Linked DNA regions of Homo sapiens: region 2 is linked to region 1. The links come from fine-mapping of genetic effects on gene expression. A gene starts in region 1. The other region holds a variant in brackets. All regions are shown on one strand. Distances are between the middles of the regions.

Region 1 (12,278 bases):
TCAAAATCCAAGGTGAAAAAATTATATGAGAGTCTTTTTACTTGATGGTTGACAAATTCAACATAATCACGTGTGTCATGAATCTTTTTATGACAACAATACAGCATCAAAATGTACAGTGTAGACCTAGAGGAAATACAAAGAGAAACACAGGGCCCCAATAATAATGGAAAACATAAACAAACCTTTCTGTGCCTTTGACAAATTAGGTAGACAAAAGCTAAAAGGTAAAGAAATGAGATTCTAGAGACTTCAGTAGAACTAAGAGTACCTAATAAAATGCTTCTAAAAATATGTGTGTGTGCGTGCGCACATGTGCACACACACAGGCATTTGTGAAATTATCTTATAAATAGAATTCCAGGTATTTTTTCAAAAACTGAACATATATATATAATGTTTTAAAATATTTCAAAAGATAGAACTTGCCTTCAAAATATAATTCAAGAAATAAACAAAACTTGAAATTAAACTGAACAAAAATATAAACATTTAGAAGTCACTTCCAAGTAATTCTTTGGTCTAAGAAGAAATCAGACACACATTGTATTTATTGTAGAAAATAATGAAAATGAAAATACCACATATCAGACTCTCCAGGTCACAGCTAAAAGCAGATTCAGAGGAAAATTCGTTGCCTTAAATGCTTCAATTATAAATATGAATGAATGAAAATAAACGTTAAGTATTTAATCCAAGCATTCAGATTTTTTAAAGACAGCAAAATTAAGAAAGAAAAAGAAGGAATTGATGAAGATGTAGTAATAGCAATTGTACTTCAATAAAATATTTTGAGGAAATAATCAGACAAGAGCTCAAGAATGTTTGTTCGGTGCTGTTTCTGGAAACTCAGAAAAAACTTTAATCTTTATTATAGGGATGATTGAATAAATCATAACACATTTCATGTTAGCAGAACAAAGAGACACTAAAATATATACCTTAATACAAAAATCTACAACAAGTGGAATTAAAAAGCAGAATGCAGAGCTGAATATAAGAATCACAATTGGGCACTGAGGAATACATTAGCAGTTAATATAAGTTGTGTCTTTACATCTTCAGGTATTTATTTAAAGGAACTACAGTTTGGTGTTATAATTAGAAAAATACAACCCTAAAAGTATGGACTGTGAAATCATATTTATTCTAGTGTCCTCCTTTAAGTAGAACATTGCATTCCATTTCTTTAGGGACTGTATTTCTTAATCATTGTAACAGGTATAACCTCTTGTACCCATTACAGCAAGCAATTACTAAATATAATATACCACATTTGTCTTTTCTGCAGGATCCCAAGAATTTCTCTGCCCTCAAAGCAATTTTCTGTTTAATGCTATGCTGAGGATACTCTTATTTCATACTAATGATTTAGAACCCTCACCACCATATCAGAATTCCAAGCCAAAACTAAGGTACTATGAAAAGTTAACTGGTGTGGAAAGTCAATGGTCATTTCTTATCTTATTTCTCTACTTGAAGAGTTATTCCTTACCAAGAGCTCTCCGCACCTTCACTATGGGGAAATATGCACCTACTTTAAGGAAATATTATGGGAATTAAATGTTGTGACATCTTTCAGGCACCCAGCACAGTGGTGAGATGGAGTTCCCCCTTTACCTTCTCCCATATTCTTTCCTGATCCTATCTGAGTAATTACAACTCTTCCAACCAATCCACTTTTACACAGTTTTTTTTATAGAATAAACATCCAAATGCAGCATCTGTGATATATCTGAATTAAATAGTGGGTGCAACAACATGGCTATTTCAAGCTTAAATGTCAGCTAATTTTTTTGAAAGCAAAGTCATGGGAGTGAGTGTCTGTTTACACCTAATGCTGAGAAATTTAATCTCTGCAGGCTGTGACACATTCTGATATCAGAGGATCAAAATCCCACTGGTGGAAGTTAATTTCCTTTGCTCTACAATCCACACTTACCATTCTGCACTCAGGTGGGAAAATAAAACTTGTGTTCTTCATCCAAAGTTACTAAAAACACCCAAGCCCAAATTTAAACCTCAAAACTATGAGCTCTGCTTCCTTGGAACTCAAAAGAATAATTCTCTTTGCTACTCAGAGATTAATCACACTGCCTTTATCACCTACTATGCTTGTGTTATTTTACTCTTCTTTTGTTATTTAACTGAGAGCATTTGTGTCTATTCTACCCAACCAAACCATGAATTTGCATGTGTCAGGGAAGCTCTGGCAAAATCTGATACAACTTATTCCTCATATATTAATTGCTTAATACAGTTTTTGTGATTGAATTTTGAGCTAATAACATATTTTAATTCAATACAGCATGCATTTTTAAACACTCTGAGAATGTCCAAAAACAATTTGGCACTTAGGTAAGAAGAGACTTTATTCAGGCTGGGTGCGGTGGGTGGCTCACGCCTGTAATCCCAGCCCTTCGGGAGGCCGAGGCGGGCGGATCACAAGGTCAAGAAATCGAGACCATCCTGGACAAAATGGTGAAACCCAGTCTCTACTAAAAATACAAAAATTAGCTGGGCGTGGTGCCATGGGCCTGTAGTCCCAGCTACTGGGGAGGCTGAGACAGGAGAATTCCTTGAACCCGGGAGGCGGAGATTGCAATAAGCTGAGATCACGCCAGTGCACTCCAGCCTGGCAACAGAGCAAGACTCCATCTTAAAATAGAATAAAATAAAATAAAGAGACTTTATTCGAAAGGATTAGTGCAAGAGGGAGACTGGACCATTACAGTAAGGAGAAAGGGGCTGTTGTAGTTTGGAGAACATTCTTATCATGAGATCTGGAAGTATCTCAAGGGTTAGGAAAAAAGAGATTCTCTTTCATAGGAAAGAATAGACAAGGCTAGAAAGAACCAGGTGTGGAGAAGTACCATGACAGGAGTGACACGATCTGCCAGTAGATGAGGGAATATTTTACCCTGAACTCTGCAGCGTACTCCAGGGAGAGGCTGTGGAGGAGGAGCTGTGTGCTGGCTGAGGCTGAGGGCGGGACAAAGTTCAGCCTAGGAGAAGCAAAGAATCTTAACCAAAGTTGGTTTAGCCTGCATTTTTTTCTGATTGATCAGTGGGGACAAAACAGCTTAGCTAATATCATTTATGAGACAAACAAAAGGAATTTAGAGGGTCTGCGTCTGGCCTTGTTATAAGTGTTGATGGCTATTTACTCTGTGTTGCTACAAAAATATATGTGAAATTGGGTAATTTAAAAAGAACAGAGGTTCATTTGGTTCACAGTTCTGCAGGCTGTACAAGAAGCATAGTGTCAGCATTTGCTTCTGGTGAGGGCCTTGGGAAGCTTACAATCATGGCAGAAGGCAAAGTAGGAACAGGCACGCCACATGGCAAGAGAGGGAGCAAGAGAGAAAGGAGGAGGTGCCAGGCTCTTTGAACAACCAGATCTCATGAGAACTAAAATCAAGAACTCACTCATTACTGCAAGAACAGCACCAAGCCCTTCATGAGGGATCCACCCCCATGATCGAAACACCTCCCACCAGGCCCCACCTCCAACATTAGAGGTCACATTTCAACATGAGATTTGAAGGGGACAAAACATTTGAACCATATCAATGCCCACAAGGCAGCATTGGTGAATCTGATTTAAGTCACATGGGGAATAATGGTTAGCTGCACAAAGCCCTTTCTGGAACACAAAGCAGTGGGGGCATTTATTAACCTTTTCTGTTTTCCAGGATCACAGGGTTCTGGTAAAGTTCAAACTTGTCAGAGGATACAAGGAGAAAAGGTGCAGTGTCTCCATTCAGGAATTTGGAGACTAAAGAAAGAGTCAAGGAAAAATTGTTCACATTTTTAAAAATAGTAACGATTAAGCAGAAGACAAGAAGGAAGACAATTAGATCTCATTTGATTTCCAATACCTTCATGATGCAGGCACCACAGTCTCTCAGTTAACAGATGAGAAGAAAGAGGCTTAGAACTGTTAAGTAAATAATCCAGGGACTCACAGACAGGACATAGCAGAGCCAAGTTTGAATCCAGATCATTTTGACAGCCCAGGGCACAGTTCATATATGAAAAGGCCAACTAACAAAATGTTAGCTAACAAATGCATCACTGTGGACAGTCAGGAAATACCTGCAAGCTCCAGAACTTTCTCATTTACATAGCACTAACAGAAACTTTTGGACTTTCCCTGCAATGAGGCAGAGTGTCAATCCCTACTGAGATGGACCCCAATAACCATTAAAAATACATATATAAAAAACAAGTTTAAATATTTTGCCTATAACTTTTATTCCAAAGCTTATGAACTCTTCTCTTTTAGCATTACAGGAAAATGATGTATTTGTTCAAGGATATAAAAATTGTGGCCAGGGCTCCCATAGTGAATGTATGAAGCAGGAAGCTGGGGGGATCCATGGAACCTTGAGCATTCTCTTCCAGAACTCTCCATCCCTGCTAAAGCTAAAATGCCTGTATCATGGGCAAAGCTTGTCACACTAGAAAGGTCAAAACTTAAAAATGTTCTTACCAAGTATCTCCCAGTAGTATGTGGCTGATATGAGACTGAGGCAAAGCTTCTCCTAGCAGAAAAGAAGGGACTCAGTAACCTGGGAAAGGTGACCTTCATCTAGAAAAGGAAGAGACAGAATTTCTACAAATGAGTTCAGGTAAGAATGTGTATTAGAGTTCTCCAGAGAAACAGAAATAGAACTAATAGGAGGGGTGTGTGTGTGTGTGTGTGTGTGTGTGTGTGTGTGTGTGTGTAGGGAGGGGGGAGAGAGAGAAACAGAGAGAGAAATTTATTATAGGGAATACAATATGAAATAATCATTCACACAATTAATAGAGACTAAGAAGTCCCAAGATCTGCAAGCAGCAAGTGTCAGGCCTCTGAGCCCAAGCCAAGCCATCGCATCCCCTGTGACTTGCACGTATACGCCCAGATGGCCTGAAGTAACTGAAGAATCACAAGAGAAGTGAAAAGGCCCTGCCCCGCCTTAACTGATGACATTCCACCATTGTGATTTGTTCCTGCCCCACCCTAACTGATCAAGGTACTTTGTAATCTCCCCCACCCTTAAGAAGGTTCTTTGTAATTCTCCCCACCCTTGAGAATGTACTTTGTGAGATCCACCCCTGCCCGCAAAACATTGCTCTTAACTTCACCGCCTATCCCAAAACGTATAAGAACTAATGATAATCCACCACCCTTTGCTGACTCTCTTTTCAGACTCAGCCCACCTGCACCCAGGTGAAATAAACAGCCATGTTGCTCACACAAAGCCTGTTTGGTGCTCTCTTCACACGGACGCGCATGAAAGCAAGCTGGAGACCCAGGAGAGCTGATGTGTAGTTCCAGTCTGAGTATGAAGGCCTGAGAACCAGGAGAGCCAATGGTGTAGTTCCAGTCTGAAAGCTGGCAGGCTTGAGACCCAGGAAGAACTGATGTTTCAGTTCAAGCCCAAAAGCCAGAAAAAAAACAATGTCCCAGCTCAAAGAAGTCAGGCAAGAGGAGTTCCCCGCTTTTCACAGAAGAATTAGCCTATTTATTCTATTCAGGCCTTTAATTGAATGGATGAGAGCCATTCACATTAGGGAGGGCAATCTGCTTTACTCAGTCTGCCAATTCAAATGCTAATCTCATCCAGAGCCACCTCACAGACACACCCAGAATAATGTTTAACTATTTGGGCACTCCATGGCCCAGTCAAACTGACACATACAGTTAATCATTATACCATGTTAGTTTGTCTTCTTGTCCACTCAACTTTCTTCTAACTACTGTATAGTATTCCATTGTGTTATATACATGCACAGTTATACTTTATAAAGATGAAAGGGCTGGGCACAGTGGCTCACACCTGTAATCCCAGCACTTTGGGAGGCCGAGGCAGGTGGATCACGAGGTCAGGAGATCAAGACCATCCTGGCTAACATGGTGAAACCCTGTCTCTACTAAAAATACAAAAAATTAGCCAGGCGTGGTGGCAGGCGCCTGTAGTCCCAGCTACTTGGGAGGTTGAGGCAGGAGAATGGCGTGAACCCAGGAGGCAGAACTTGCAGTAAGCCGAGATCGTGCCATTGCACTCCAGCCTGGGCAACAGAAAAAGACTCCATCTCAAAAAAAAAAAAAAAAAAAAAGGAAACAACCATATTTATTATTTTGCTTAATATTATGTTTGTAAGTTCCATTTATGTTATTTTTGGCTACAGATCATTTTCTTATTGCTATATAGTATTTCATTGTGTGACTACATGAAAATTTATTCATCCAGTTGATGGACATTTGGGTGGTTTCCAGTTTGGGATGATTCATTGATTTTGACATCATGAATATTTAGGTTGCTTCTGATACGTTTCTTTAATACTTTGCGAAGGCATCATTTTGCATGACTGCTTGTATAGATACATAAATGTTTCTCTTGGGTGGCCACAGGTTAAACAATGGTCTATCTGGATCATGAATGGAGAGAAAAGGAAACAACCAGAAAGCTCTCTCTCCCCACCTATTCTCTGTCCATGGCATCTGCCACTTTCTCTCACTCTGCCCCTACCACACTGTGACCTAACCAGCTTCTACCTTCTCCCAGGAGTTCCTCACAGATTTTGTCTTATAAACATTTTCTTGAAGTAAAACATACCTACAGAAAAGTGCATATGTTTTAAGTATGTAGTGCAAAGAATTTATGTGAATTGAGCATATGTAAGTAACCCAGATAGAGATGAAAAATTATTAGCATCTAGAAATGGAACAATGCATTAGAGGATATGTAATTCCAGCTTTACTAAATACTGCTGAATTGCTTTTCAAAAATTACCACATCAACTAACTCTCACCAGAAGTAAAGATGTACACCCGTTTCCCTTCAATCTTGTCAGCACTTGGGGATAGCCACACGCTAGCTTTCACTATAATAATAGGTAAACATTCTTACTGGTTTTAGTTATTTTCCTTAATTTTTAATATGGTTGAGCCTATCTTCATACTCATTTGTTAGTTGGAATATGCTGCACTTGTTTTGCTATTGAGTTGTTGTCCTGTTTTGAACCTTTCCTTAAGAGTCCACAGCTTATCCAGTTTTCTACACAACTCACTTCTGTTTGCTGCCCTTCATTATAGACTCAATGCCTTCTCATTGCTAGAGCACTGTGCCCTCCTTGGGGCTCGATGGTTTATAATAAAGCTTCCCCAGGAGATCTCATGGGGGCCAGGTTCTTTAGTGGTGGCCACTAAAGCTACTACCTCTTATTCCAGGTGCCATAAACCAGTGGCTGGACCTGGTTGGTTCACAGAGTGTTCTCAATGTGAGGAATCAGGTATTGTGCTTGGTTGTCATATAAGCAGCTTAGTTCCCATTGTTTTATACCTGGCCTGCTACCCTCATTCATGTTACCTTCATGCCCCATAGACATTTGAGATTTGATGCAAACCAGTCTGTTACAGTAAAAGCACCACTGTCTAGGAAGTTCTGGAGATGGGTTATCAGCTCATTTACATCAGCAGCTGCGGGATCTTGGGCAAGTCATTTCACCTATTGGAGCCACTCTCTGCTAGCATAAAGGAGAACATAAAGATACCTTCCCTGCCTATCTCACAAGGTTGTTTGGGAAACTGAATGAAAGAACGTGTAAATGTGCTTTGCAGGTTTTTTGTGAAACAGGAATAGCTGTTAGTATTCTCGCCTAGCCCTGTCTGTGGTGCCCAGGATGCTGCATTACCTCCTTTCTACCCTCGCCCTGAGTATTGGTCCTAGGTAGAAGCTGAGGTGAATATACTGAAAGCAGTAAGAATCTTCACCAGGCCCCTCCCAGTCATATCACAAGGTGTTGTAGCTTATTGACAAACACAGACCTCATGTTTCTCTGAGAACCGCCCTGTGAACACCTAGATAGAACTAAGGGTGTGAAATACAAACGTACTATTTGCCTACACTTACGGAAATAAGAGCACATGACACAGTAGATGGCAAGGTGAGGCTTTAAGTCAGAAAGCAACCTCAGCTGAAACAAATGCATAATTATAATTTGATTTCAGAAGTGGAAACATGACCCGAATTCATGCACCTACTGATTAGTCCAAATTCCTTTATTGTTGAAGCTGGAGCAGAAGTGGGGGTCCACCGTGGAAGTAAGGAAAAGCAAAACAGAACAGGGGTCTCATCCAGGGAGCCATGTCGATGGCTATGGGGAGCTCCACCTTGCTCTTGGGGTGGGGCCCTGGCCCTGGGTGGGACTGTGGGGTGATGAGGGTTGTGCTATGCTGGCTACCTGGTGGTAATTGCCAAGGAGAGAGCAGCACGTAGATCCTCCCTGTCATCAGGCAGAGCTCTTCAGTGAGGTGGGCTCAGGGAGGGCTCTGTGCCTCCGTTCAGCAGAGCTGCAGCTGCTGCCCAGCTCTCAGGAGGCAAGCTGGACTCCCTCACTCAGCTGCAGGAGCAAGGACAGTGAGGCTCAACCCCGCCTGAGCCATGCCAGCCAACTTCACAGAGGGCAGCTTCGATTCCAGTGGGACCGGGCAGACGCTGGATTCTTCCCCAGTGGCTTGCACTGAAACAGTGACTTTTACTGAAGTGGTGGAAGGAAAGGAATGGGGTTCCTTCTACTACTCCTTTAAGGTAAGTTTCTTGCCTGCGACTCTGAACACTGACTTATAACAATGAGACTGCTGGAACTTAAGAGTGTCAATTGAAGTATCATAGCCAGTATTGTGAATGAGTGTTATTTTCTTTACTAAAAAGGATTTTTAAAAGTCTGAAGTGCTAAAACAACAAGCTGTAGTGTGCAGAGACCTAGATTGTAGTTTCTTAGGAATACAGGTGACGTTTTTCTTTCTGATGCTGCTGGAAATGTGTGAATCGTGAGTAACATTTATGAGTGGATGATTTTTACTTTCCCCCTTTCCTTAGGTGAAAGCACTTTTAATTAATCCTATAGCAGTACTTGAAATGTCTGTTTCTAGTAGGGGTTAGAGCTATGAGTTTTTTGCTAGGAACACCAGAGATGCGGAAAGCTCACAATCCCCAGGACAGTGACTGATATGATGAGAAACAACATTGAATAAGGCAGGAAGGACGACACTTTCTTTGATGATCCTTTTCATTAAACATCAGTGAGGAATATATTTCTTTGAGGGTAGTTGATGATGCCACCATTTGCAACAAATTACCTCCTAGAACAAATGAAGGACAGAGAGTTTGGTGAGTTTCACCTTCAAAGTATCCAAGGGCCACACTGAGGAAGGATCTTCATTAAGCTAATACTGTATTGTTTCTTATTCCGCAACAAGATCTTGTGGACAGAAATGAACCGCACATTTGGGAAAAGAACAGTTTCCTGCTTCTTGCCTCAGAATGCTGGGTTGTCAGGTTATTTCACACCTGTCTAACGATATGTTTAGTCATTGCAATAATTCACAGGTCTCAAACTGGTCCTTTCCACTGAAGAAAAAATACTTCAAAAAGATTCTAGTTGTTGCTTTGTTGGGTTTTGTTGTTGTTGTTGTTGTTAATCCTCTGTATGTTCTTGAAATGATTTGGTTTTTACACAATGAGATAGCATTACTGTAACATCCACCTCCCTACTGGAAGTTCACTTCTTTTGCAAATATTCAGAATAAAACTTTCAGCAGGGTGCTGTCCCAGGAGTCAGACTTAAACTTCCAGGGCCCTAATGATCCTGCAGCAAAGCAGAACCTGAGCAAACTACTCCTCCACTGGCTTCAGTGAAACCCTGTCCCTTGGAATCACCTCCTAATGCATATGCACATACGCAGCCCAGCTGCACAGCTCCACGATGTAGCTTAGAAAGTAAAATTAGAGTTTGTTGCCACTTAATGTCGACTGAATAATCCCCTTTATGAAATCAGCCTGCAGACCCAGAGAGTCTGTCTTGGCAGGCTGTGTGCACCCAGGAAGCACAGGACTCCACTCAGTATTGCTGCCTGTGTAGCCTCTTTGATATTCTTAGAACATGATAGCAAGCAGAATGAAGAGAGGCCCTCCATTGCAAAGGGAATAAAATCAGCAATAAGGTGGTTATTCTGAGACTCTGGCAAGAATCAATCTCAGCTGAAATCTCATTTGCCATTTTTTGAATATAGCACCTACAGGGATATTTGGAATATGTGAAGAAACAAATCCCACCTTGCTCTCTATGAGTGTTTGTCCTCTCTATCCTAGCAACATCATCGCCAGACACTAAAGAGAATCACAGCATCTCTAGCTGATTCCTATTGATATGTTTGCAGCAAAACGGCTGGACCACTGGACAAGGAGAAAAGCAGAAAGACAGGAATTGTGTTTGGCCAGGAGCTTAGAATGCTCAGATTCATTATTTGAGAGATACGTGTATTGACTAAAACCCTGTGATTTTTAGTTACACAGTGATTACTGGTGGTATTTGTGAGAACTTAGCTTATATTTCTTAGTGTAACTTTTTTTCTATGATCCCCTTTGGGCACAAGCAATTCTAATGCATTGTTGATACAGAAATAGTTCCAATGCAAGCCCTTGTTCACTGCAATTCATTTTATCTGACATACTTCTAGAGAAGAAATTCGAAACCATGCTCCCTTTACTGTCTCCCAGATGTATCCCCTTTAATCCCCATTGCCTTCATCAAAAGCAGTAAAAAAAATAGCATGAAAATAAAAATAGCAGCAGCAGTAAAAGTCACAGAAATAACAGCAACAACCATACGTCTCATTTACTTTGGGCATTCTTGGTGCCAAGAGTCATAGCAAGACTCACTTAGCAAGTGACTTCTGTGAAGTATCTCATTTAATTCTCACAATCCATGGTGTATCTTTCCTTCCGGTCCTGCCTTCCATCTTCATCTGTTTATCTCAATTTTACCCAGTCTATAAAGCTCAGCTTGGGTTGCTTCCTCCATGAAGCCCTCCTTGACTCATCCCTCCCTGACTCATCCCTCCCTGAGCTTCATTAGTGTCACGGACTGTACCTCTCTTCTTGCCACTTAATGCAGTTCTGTCTTAAACTGCTATTTCCATATGTGTTGGCTGAATGTGTTACAGTCCTCAAGCTCCTTGAGTAAAATGAATGCCTTATATTTGTTTCATATTTTCTCCCAGGACCTACCACTATGTTAGTCATACTCAATAAACATTGACTGCATAAACAAATTGTGATGTGTTTTTTCTTCCAATTACCAACATTTTGTCAAATAAGCAACAGAAAGCATGTATTCCCTGTGACAGAGGTGGGTGGGGGCTCTCATTAACCAAGTTTCCACCCATCAGCCCCTACCCTGCCTGGTCTCTATACTCACCCAGGTCCCTTTCTGCAAGCATGTTCAGCTTGTCCCTATTCCATTTCTAAGCCAATGAGACCAAAGTCGGTTCTAGATTCCAGTGGGTGGGGTATGGAATTAGCTGAGGCACCATGAGCTGGTACCAAGTACCTGGTCCAGCCCTGGGGAATCCATCTCTATTGCATGGCAGCCTTACCTAGTCTCAGCTGTCTTGCTCCGTCCACTTACCTAGGCTCCTGACTTCGTTTCCCATCTCACATTCTAGTTCTTATCCTCTGAACTCCAAAGCTCTTTCAGGAGGAGACAAAGCACCCCGTCTAGATCTTACTGGCACTTCCTTCACAGGCTTAGAGTCTGTTCCTTCCTCCCACCTCCACCCTTGAATTCTGGCTTCTGCTTCCACCCCTCTAACCTACTCTACCTTCCTAAGCATGTGAGGCTCTTGGAAATGAGCAGGGAGGTCTAGGGTGGGTTCACCCATCCCATCTTCCACCATGGGCCTTGTGTAACTAACCCTACGTGGTCTTGGGTTCAAGATTCTCAGCTCAGACCCTGGCTCCCTTCACAGTTTCCAGTTTTGTGTGCTTTTAAGATCACATCCAGCTCACCTCTTCAAGACCTAGGTCTTGGCACTAAGGAATTATATGCGTTTCAAGAATCTACCAGAAGTTTTCAAGGGGAAATGGGAACCAGCTCATCAGAAAATAAATGAGGTATCTGAATATAAGGCTGTCCAAATGCAAAACAAATACAAAACTCTTCACACAGAAAGCCCTTAATTTTGCTGGTGAATTCACCAGCAATGTTTCCTGAATCTCTGATACTTAATGAGAAACCTAATTAGAAGTAACTGGGAGGGAGACCTGTCTTGATTAGTGAATTATCTAAATTATAAAATAATGTAAATGAAACTTAGTTTTATTACTCATAGGTGAGCACAGAAACATGAACTAAGACTGCTAAATATCACCTAATAACAATCTTTTATTGCGCCTCCTTCGGTGGATAGTTACAAGTGATACACAATTAGTCTATTGTTTATA
Region 2 (8,000 bases), 140 kb after region 1:
ACAAACGTTTATATCATGTTTATTCCTATTTTCCAAACTTGGAAGCAACCAAGATGTCCTTTGGTAGGTAAATGGAGAAATAAGCTGTGGTACATCCATACAATGAAATATTATTCAGTGCTAAAAAGAAATGAGCTGTCAAGCTTATTTAAAGGTTACGTGTCTCATGCAAAGACATGGAAGAAATTTATGCATATTAGTAAGCAAAAGTGACAGTCTGAGAAGCTACATACTGTAGATTCCAACTTTATGACATTCTGGAAAAGGCAAAACTCTGGAGAAAGTGAAAACATTAGTGGTTGCCAGGGCTTGGGGAGAGGGAGGCAGAGCACAGAGGGGGAACAAAGGGCAGTAGAACTACTCTGTACTATACTATAACAGTGGACACATGTCTATACTTTTGTCAAAATACAATGTATAACACCAAGAGTGAATCCTAATGTAAACTATGAACTTTGGGTGATAATGATGTGTCAATGTAGGTTCATCCACTGTAACAAATATACCACTCTTGCATGGAAGCGTGATGGTGAGTGAGGCTCTGTGTATGGGGGACAGGGGGTTTATGGGAAATCTGTAACTTCTGCTCAATTATGTTATTAATCTAAAACTGCTCTAATAATAAAATCTACTTTTAAACATGTAATAGAATTCCCAAGAACTGTGGGACAATTACACAAAGTGTAGCACACACATATAACAGAAATACCAAAAAAAGAAAAGAGCAGAAGAAGTATTTGAAGAAATAAAAGATGAAAAATTTTCTAAATTAATGGCAAACACCAATCCAGAGATCCAGGAAGCTCAGAGAACACCAAAGCAAAATAAATGTCAGAAAAAATGTACCTCTAGGCATATCATATTCAAACTGCAGAAAACCAAAGACAAAGATAAAATCCTGATAGAAGTTGAGGGGGAAACTTACAGATAAATAAACAATAATAAGAATTTCCTCTGACTTATCAGAAATCAGCCAAGTAAGAAGATAGTATAATAAAATATTTAAAGTGGGAAAAGAATACAAATCCCCCTGACCTAGAATTCTCTATCAAGTGAAATTATTCTTCAAAAGTGAAGAAGAAATAAAGACTTTCTCAGACATACAAAAACAGGAAATTTCTCAAAAGTAAACTTTTCTTACAAAAAATGCTAAAAGAAGTTCTTCAGATAAAGGGGAAAATGATAAAATAATAAGCACAAATCAATATAAAGGAAGAGCAATTGAGAAGGAATAAATGAAGGCAAATTAAAGCTACTTTTCTTACTCTTAATTGACCTATAGATAGTTGCTCGACACAAAAATAGCAATAATGCATTGGTAATCATTATTACCACTTATTAGGATAAGTGAACTGAATGACAATATTAAAAGAGATGCAGCCCAGGCACGGGTGGCCCATGCCTGTAATCCCAGAACTTTGGGAGGCCGAGGCAGGTGGATCACTTGAGGTCAGGAGCTTGTGGCCAGCCTGACCAACATGGTGAAACCCCGTGTCTACTAAAAATACAAAAATAGGCCAGATGTGGTGGCACGCACCTGTAATCCCAGCTACTCGGGAGGCTGAAGCAGGAGAATCTCTTGAACCCGGAAGGCGAAGGTTGCAGTGATCCAAGATTGTACCACTACACTCCAGCCTGGGTGACAGAGTGAGACTCTGTCTAAGAAAAAGGGGCGGGGGGTTGAATGCAAAGAGAAATACAATTTAACTGAACAGCTATCAGTTAAAGTGAACTGAACTATTAATTAAATGGATCTAATTGGCATTTGTAGAATACTTCATCCAGTAATAGCAGAATATATCTTCTTATCAAACTTATATGCGATTTCCATCAAGAGAAACTTCATATGGACCATAAAACACATTTTAACAATGTAAAAAAATAGAAATTACACAAAGTATACTCTCAGAACACACAGAATAGAACTAAAAATCAGTAACAGAAGGATAGCTGAAAATTTTCAAACTGTTTGGAGATTGAACAACACACTTCTAAGTAATAAGTGAATTGAAGAAGATATCTCAAGAAATATTTTGAAATAAATGAAAATGTAACATCATAGTTTGTAGGATGCAGTAAAAGCAGTTCTTTGAGTGAAATTTATAACACTGAATGGATATATTAGAAAATAAAAAAATGTGATATTAATAAACTAATCTTAGGCCTTAGGAAACTAGAGAAAGAAAAGAAATGTAGGCCTAAAGAAAGCAGAATAAAAGAAATGATAAAAATTGGAGCATAAATTATTAAATTGAAGTAGAATTTAAATTTTCTCTGCAGAGTAAGTATGTGAGGTAATGAATATGTTAATTAGCTTTACTTAGCCATTCCACATGTATACATAAACACGTTATACAGCATAAACGTATATTATTTTGTTTTTCAATTAAAAATTTAATTAAAATCAGAAAAAATTAATAATTAAATTTAAAACAGGAATTCAATACTGAAAAATCAATGAAACCAAAAGCTGTTTCTTTAAAAAGATAATAAAATTGATAAATTTCTAGCCAGGCTAATCAAGAAAAGAAGAGGATTCAACATTCTTAAAGAAAACAATTTTCAACCCAGAATTTCATATCCAGCCAAACTAAGCATCATAAGTGAAGGAGAAATAAAATATTTTACAGACAAGCAAATGCTGAGAGACTTTTGTCACCACCAGGCCTGCCCTAAAAGAGCTCCTGAAGGAAGCACTAAACATGCAAAGGAACAACCGGTACCAGCCACTGCAAAACCATGACAAAATGTAAAGACCATCGAGAGTAGGAAGAAACTGCATCAACTAACGAGCAAAATAACCAGCTAACATCATAATGACAGGATCAAATTTACACATAACAATATTAACCTTAAATGTAAATGGGCTAAATGCTCCAATTAAAAGACACACACTGGCAAATTGGATAAAGAGTCAGGACCCATCAGTGTGCTGTATTCAGGAGACTCATCTCATGTGCAGAGATACACATAGGCTCAAAATAAAGGGATGGAGGAAGATCTACCAAGAAAATGGAAAGCAAAAAAAAGCAGGGGTTGCAATCCTAGTGTCTGATAAAATAGACTTTAAACCAACAAAGATCAAAAGAGTCAAAGAAGGCCACTGCATAATGGTAAAGGGATCAATTCAACAAGAAGAGCCAACTATCCTAAATATATATGCACCCAACACAGGAGCACCCAGATTCATAAAGCAAGTCCTTAGAGACCTACAGAGAGACTTAGACTCCAACACAATAATAATGGGAGACTTTAACACCCCACTGTCAATATTAGACAGATCAACGAGACAGAAGGTTAACAAGGATATTCAGGACTTGAACTCAGCTCAGCACCAAGCAGACTTAATAGACATCTACAGAACTCTTCACCCCAAAACAACAGAATATACATTCTTTTCAGCACCGCATTGCACTTATTCCAAAATTGACTACATAATTGGAAGTAAAGCACTCCTCAGCAAGTGTAAAAGAACAGCAATCACAACAAACTGTCTCTCAGACCACAGTGCTATCAAATTAGACCTCAGGATTAAGAAACTCACTCAAAACCGCACAACTACATGGAAACTGAATAACCTGCTCCTGAATGACTACTGGGTACATAGTGAAATGAAGGCAGAAATAAAGATGTTCTTTGAAACCAATAAGAACAAAGACACTATGTACCAGATTCTCTGGGACACATTTAAAGTAGTGTGTAGAGGGAAATTTATAGCACTAAATGCCCACAAGAGAAAGCAGGAGAGATCTAAAATTGACACCCTAACATCACAATTAAAAGAACTAGAGAAGCAAGAGCAAACAAATTCAAAAGCTAGCAGAAGGCAAGAAATAACTAAGATCAGAGCAGAACTGAAGGAGATAGAGACACAAAAACCCTTCGAAAAGTCAATGAATCCAGGAGCTGGTTTTCTGAAAAGATCAACAAAATTGATAGACTGCTAGCAAGACTAATAAAGAAGAAAAGAGGGAAGAATCAAATAGATGCAATAAAAAATAATAATGTGGATATCACTACCAATCCCGCAGAAATACAAACTACCATCAGAGAATACTATAAACACCTCCATGCAAATAAACTAGAAAATCTAGAAGAAATGGATAAATTCCTGGACACATACACCCTCCCAAGACTAAACCAGGAAGAAGTTGAATCTCTGAATAGACCATTAACAGGCTCCAAAATTGAGGCAATAATTAATAGGCTACCAACCAAAAAAAGTCCAGGACCAGACCAATTCACAACTGAATTCTACCAAAGGTACAAAGAGGAGTTGGTACCATTCCTTCTGAAACTATTCCAATCAATAGAAAAAGAGGGAATCCTCCCTAACTCATTTTATAAGGCCAGCATCATCCTGATACCAAAGCCTGGCAGAGACAAAACAAAAAAAAGAGAATTTTAGACCAATATCCTTGATGAACATCGATGTGAAAATCCTCAATAAAGTACTGGCAAACTGAATCCTGCAGCACATCAAAAAGCTTATCCACCATGATCAAGTCGGCTTCATCCCCGGGATGGAAGGCTGGTTCAACATATGCAAATCAATAAATGTAATCCAGTATATAAACAGAACCAAAGACAAAAACCACATGATTATCTCAATAGATGCAGAAAAGGCCTTTGACAAAATTCAACAACCCTTCATGCTAAAAACACTCAATAAATTAGGTATTGATGGGACATATCTCAAAATAATAAGAGCTATCTATGACAAACCCACAGCCAATATCATATTGAATGGGCAAAAACTGGAAGCATTCCCTTTGAAAACTGGCACAAGACAGGGATGCCCTCTCTCACCACTCCTATTCAACATAGTGTTGGAAGTTCTGGCCAGGGCAATTAGGCAGGAGAAGGAAATAAAGAGTATTCAATTAGGAAAAGAGGAAGTCAAATTGTCCCTGTTTGCAGATGACATGATTGTATATCTAGCCCCATCATCTCAGCCCCAAATCTCCTTAAGCTGATA[G/A]GCAACTTCAGCAAAGTCTCAGGATACAAAATCAATGTACAAAAATCACAAGCATTCTTATACACCAATAACAGACAATCAGAGAGCCAAATCATGAGGGAACACCCATTCACAATTGCTTCAAAGAGAATAAAATACCTAGGAATCCAACTTACAAGTGACGTGAAGGACCTCTTCAAGGAGAACTACAAACCACTGCTCAATGAAATAAAAGAGGATACAAAGAAATGGAAGAACATTCCATGCTCATGGGTAGGAAGAATCAATATCGTGAAAATGCCCATACTGCCCAAGGTATTTTATAGATTCAATGCCATCCCCATCAAGCTACAAATGACTTTCTTCACAGAATTGGAAAAAACTACTTTAAACTTCATATGGAACCAAAAAAGAGCTCACATCGCGAAGTCAATCCTAAGCCAAAAGAACAAAGCTGGAGGCATCACACTACCTGACTTCAAACTATACTACAAGGCTACAATAACCAAAACAGCATGGTACTGGTACCAAAACAGAGATATAGATCAATGGAACAGAACAGAGCCCTCAGAAATAACGCCGCATATCTACAACTATCTGATCTTTGACAAACCTGAGAAAAACAAGCAATGGGGAAAGGATTCCCTATTTAATAAACGGTGCTGGGAAAACTGGATAGCCATATGTAGAAAGCTGAAACTGGATCCCTTCCTTACACCTCATACAAAAATCAATTCAAGATGGATTAAAGACTAAATTGTTAGACCTAAAACCATAAAAACCCTAGAAGAAAACCTAAGCATTACCATTCAGGACATAGGCATGGGCAAGGACTTCATGTCTAAAACACCAAAAGCAATGGCAACAAAAGCCATAATTGACAAATGGGATCTAATTAAACTAAAGAGCTTCTGCACAGCAAAGGAAACTACCATCAGAGTGAACAGGCAACCTACAAAATGGGAGACAATTTTTGCAACCTACTCATCTGACAAAGGGCTAATATCCAGAATCTACAATGAACTCAAACAAATTTACAAGAAAAAAACAAACAACCCCATCAAAAAGTGGGCGAAGGACAAGAACAGACACTTCTCAAAAGAAGTCATTTATGCAGGCAAAAAACACATGAAAAAATGCTCACCACCACTGGCCATCAGAGAAATGCAAATCAAAACCACAATGAGCTACCATCTCACACCAGTTAGAATGGCAATCATTAAAAAGTCAGGAAACAACAGGTGCTGGAGAGGATGTGGAGAAATAGGAACACTTTTACACTGTTGGTGGGACTGTAAACTAGTTCAACCCTTGTGGAAGTCAGTGTGGCGATTCCTCAGGGATCTAGAACTAGAAATACCATTTGACCCAGCCATCCCATTACTGGGTATTTACCCAAAGGACTATAAATCATGCTGCTATAAAGACACATGCACACGTATGTTTATTGCGGCACTATTCACAATAGCAAAGACTTGGAACCAACCCAAATGTCCAACAGTGATAGACTGGATTAAGAAAATGTGGCACATATACACCATGGAATACTATGCAACCATAAAAAAGGATGAGTTCATGTCCTTTGTAGGGACATGGATGAAATTGGAAATCATCATTCTCAGTAAACTATCGCAAGGACAAAAAATCAAACACCGCAGGTTCGCACTCATAGGTGGGAATTGGACAATGAGAACACATGGACACAGGAAGGGGAACATCACACTCTGGGGACTGTTGTGGGGTGGGAGGAGGGGGGAGGGATAGCATTAGGAGATATACCTAATGCTAAATGACAAGTTAGTGGGTGCACCACACCAGCATGGCACACGTATACATATGTAACTAACCTGCACATTGTGTACATGTACCCTAAAACTTAAAGTATAATAGTAATAAAATAAAATTTAAAAAAAGATAGCATGAGTAGAAAAAAAAAAAAGAAGAGGGAAGCCACAAGTTACTAATATCAGAAATGAAAGAGGGGTCATCACTACTGATTCTGTGGACATTAAAAGAATGATAAATAAATACCATAAACAACTCTATGCCCACAAGTTTGATAGCTTAGATGAAATGAACCTATTCCTTGAAAAGCTCAATCTGCCAAAACTCACATAAAGTGAAATAGATAATTTGAATAGGCCTATACCTACTAAAGAAACTGAATTAATAATTAATAATCTTCCACAAAAGAAAACACCAGGCCCAGATGGGTTCATTAGTGAATTCTGTCAATCATTTAAAAAAAAAATGGTAACAATTATCTGCAGTCTTCTCTAGAAAACAGATGAAAAGGGAACCATTCCTAATTCATATACTTGCTGACTTGTTCCATGAGGCCAGAAATGCCCTAATTCTAAAACCAATGATATTAAAAGAAAGGAAAACTACAGAACAATATCCCTCATGAACATAAATGCAAAAATTCTCAATAAATATTAGCAACTTAAATTTTTGTTTAAAGGTATAATCATGTATAGAAAGAATTATAGTCCGTGGCCAAGTGAGATTTATTCCAGGCATGAAAATCTGGTTAAATATTTAAAAATCAATTAATATAATCTATCACACAAACAAGATAAAGAAGGAAAATTATGTGATTTTTCCATCAATGGACACAGGAAAAGCATTTAACAAAATTCAACATCCATTTATAATAAAAACTCAGCAAACTGGAAACAAAGAGAAACTGCCTCAACTTCATTAACAGCATCTAAAAAAACCATACAGTTAACCTCATATTTAATGGCAAGAAATTAGGTGCTTTTGTCCTAAGACTGGGAACAAGGTAAAGATGTCCTCTCTCGCCACTCCCATTCAACACTGAACTAGATGTCTTAGATAATTTAACAGGACAAGAAAAGTAAATAAAAAGTTTATACATTGGAAAAGATGAAATAAAAATGTCTTTGTTAATAAATTTGTAATTTTCTATATTAAAATCTGAAAGAATAGACAAGAAAAATAAAAACAAACAAAAAAGAAACTTCCAGACCTAGTAGGCAAAAAAATGGCAACACTGAAGAATAGAAGGTTAATATAC

The links.
Region 2: its variant is fine-mapped to the expression of NPSR1 in prefrontal cortex (BrainSeq, PIP 0.92).

The regions. Positions count from the first base shown.
Region 1 is chr7:34,649,978-34,662,255 of GRCh38, forward strand. It overlaps NPSR1 (neuropeptide S receptor 1), which reads left to right and starts at 8,241. Exons shown (of 9, transcript NM_207172.2): 1 at 8,241-8,582. The coding sequence starts at 8,436. The region is part of intron 2 of NPSR1-AS1 (NPSR1 antisense RNA 1); the gene reads right to left. RefSeq lists enhancers at 1,905-2,490, 4,420-5,619, 10,280-11,117, 11,954-12,278.
Region 2 is chr7:34,796,873-34,804,872 of GRCh38, forward strand. The region is part of intron 3 of NPSR1 (neuropeptide S receptor 1); the gene reads left to right. It also overlaps a transcript of NPSR1-AS1 not described here. Among named protein-coding and RNA genes, the nearest start is that of NPSR1-AS1, 43 kb to the left of the region's middle. The variant G/A (reference allele first, on the strand shown) is at 4,979.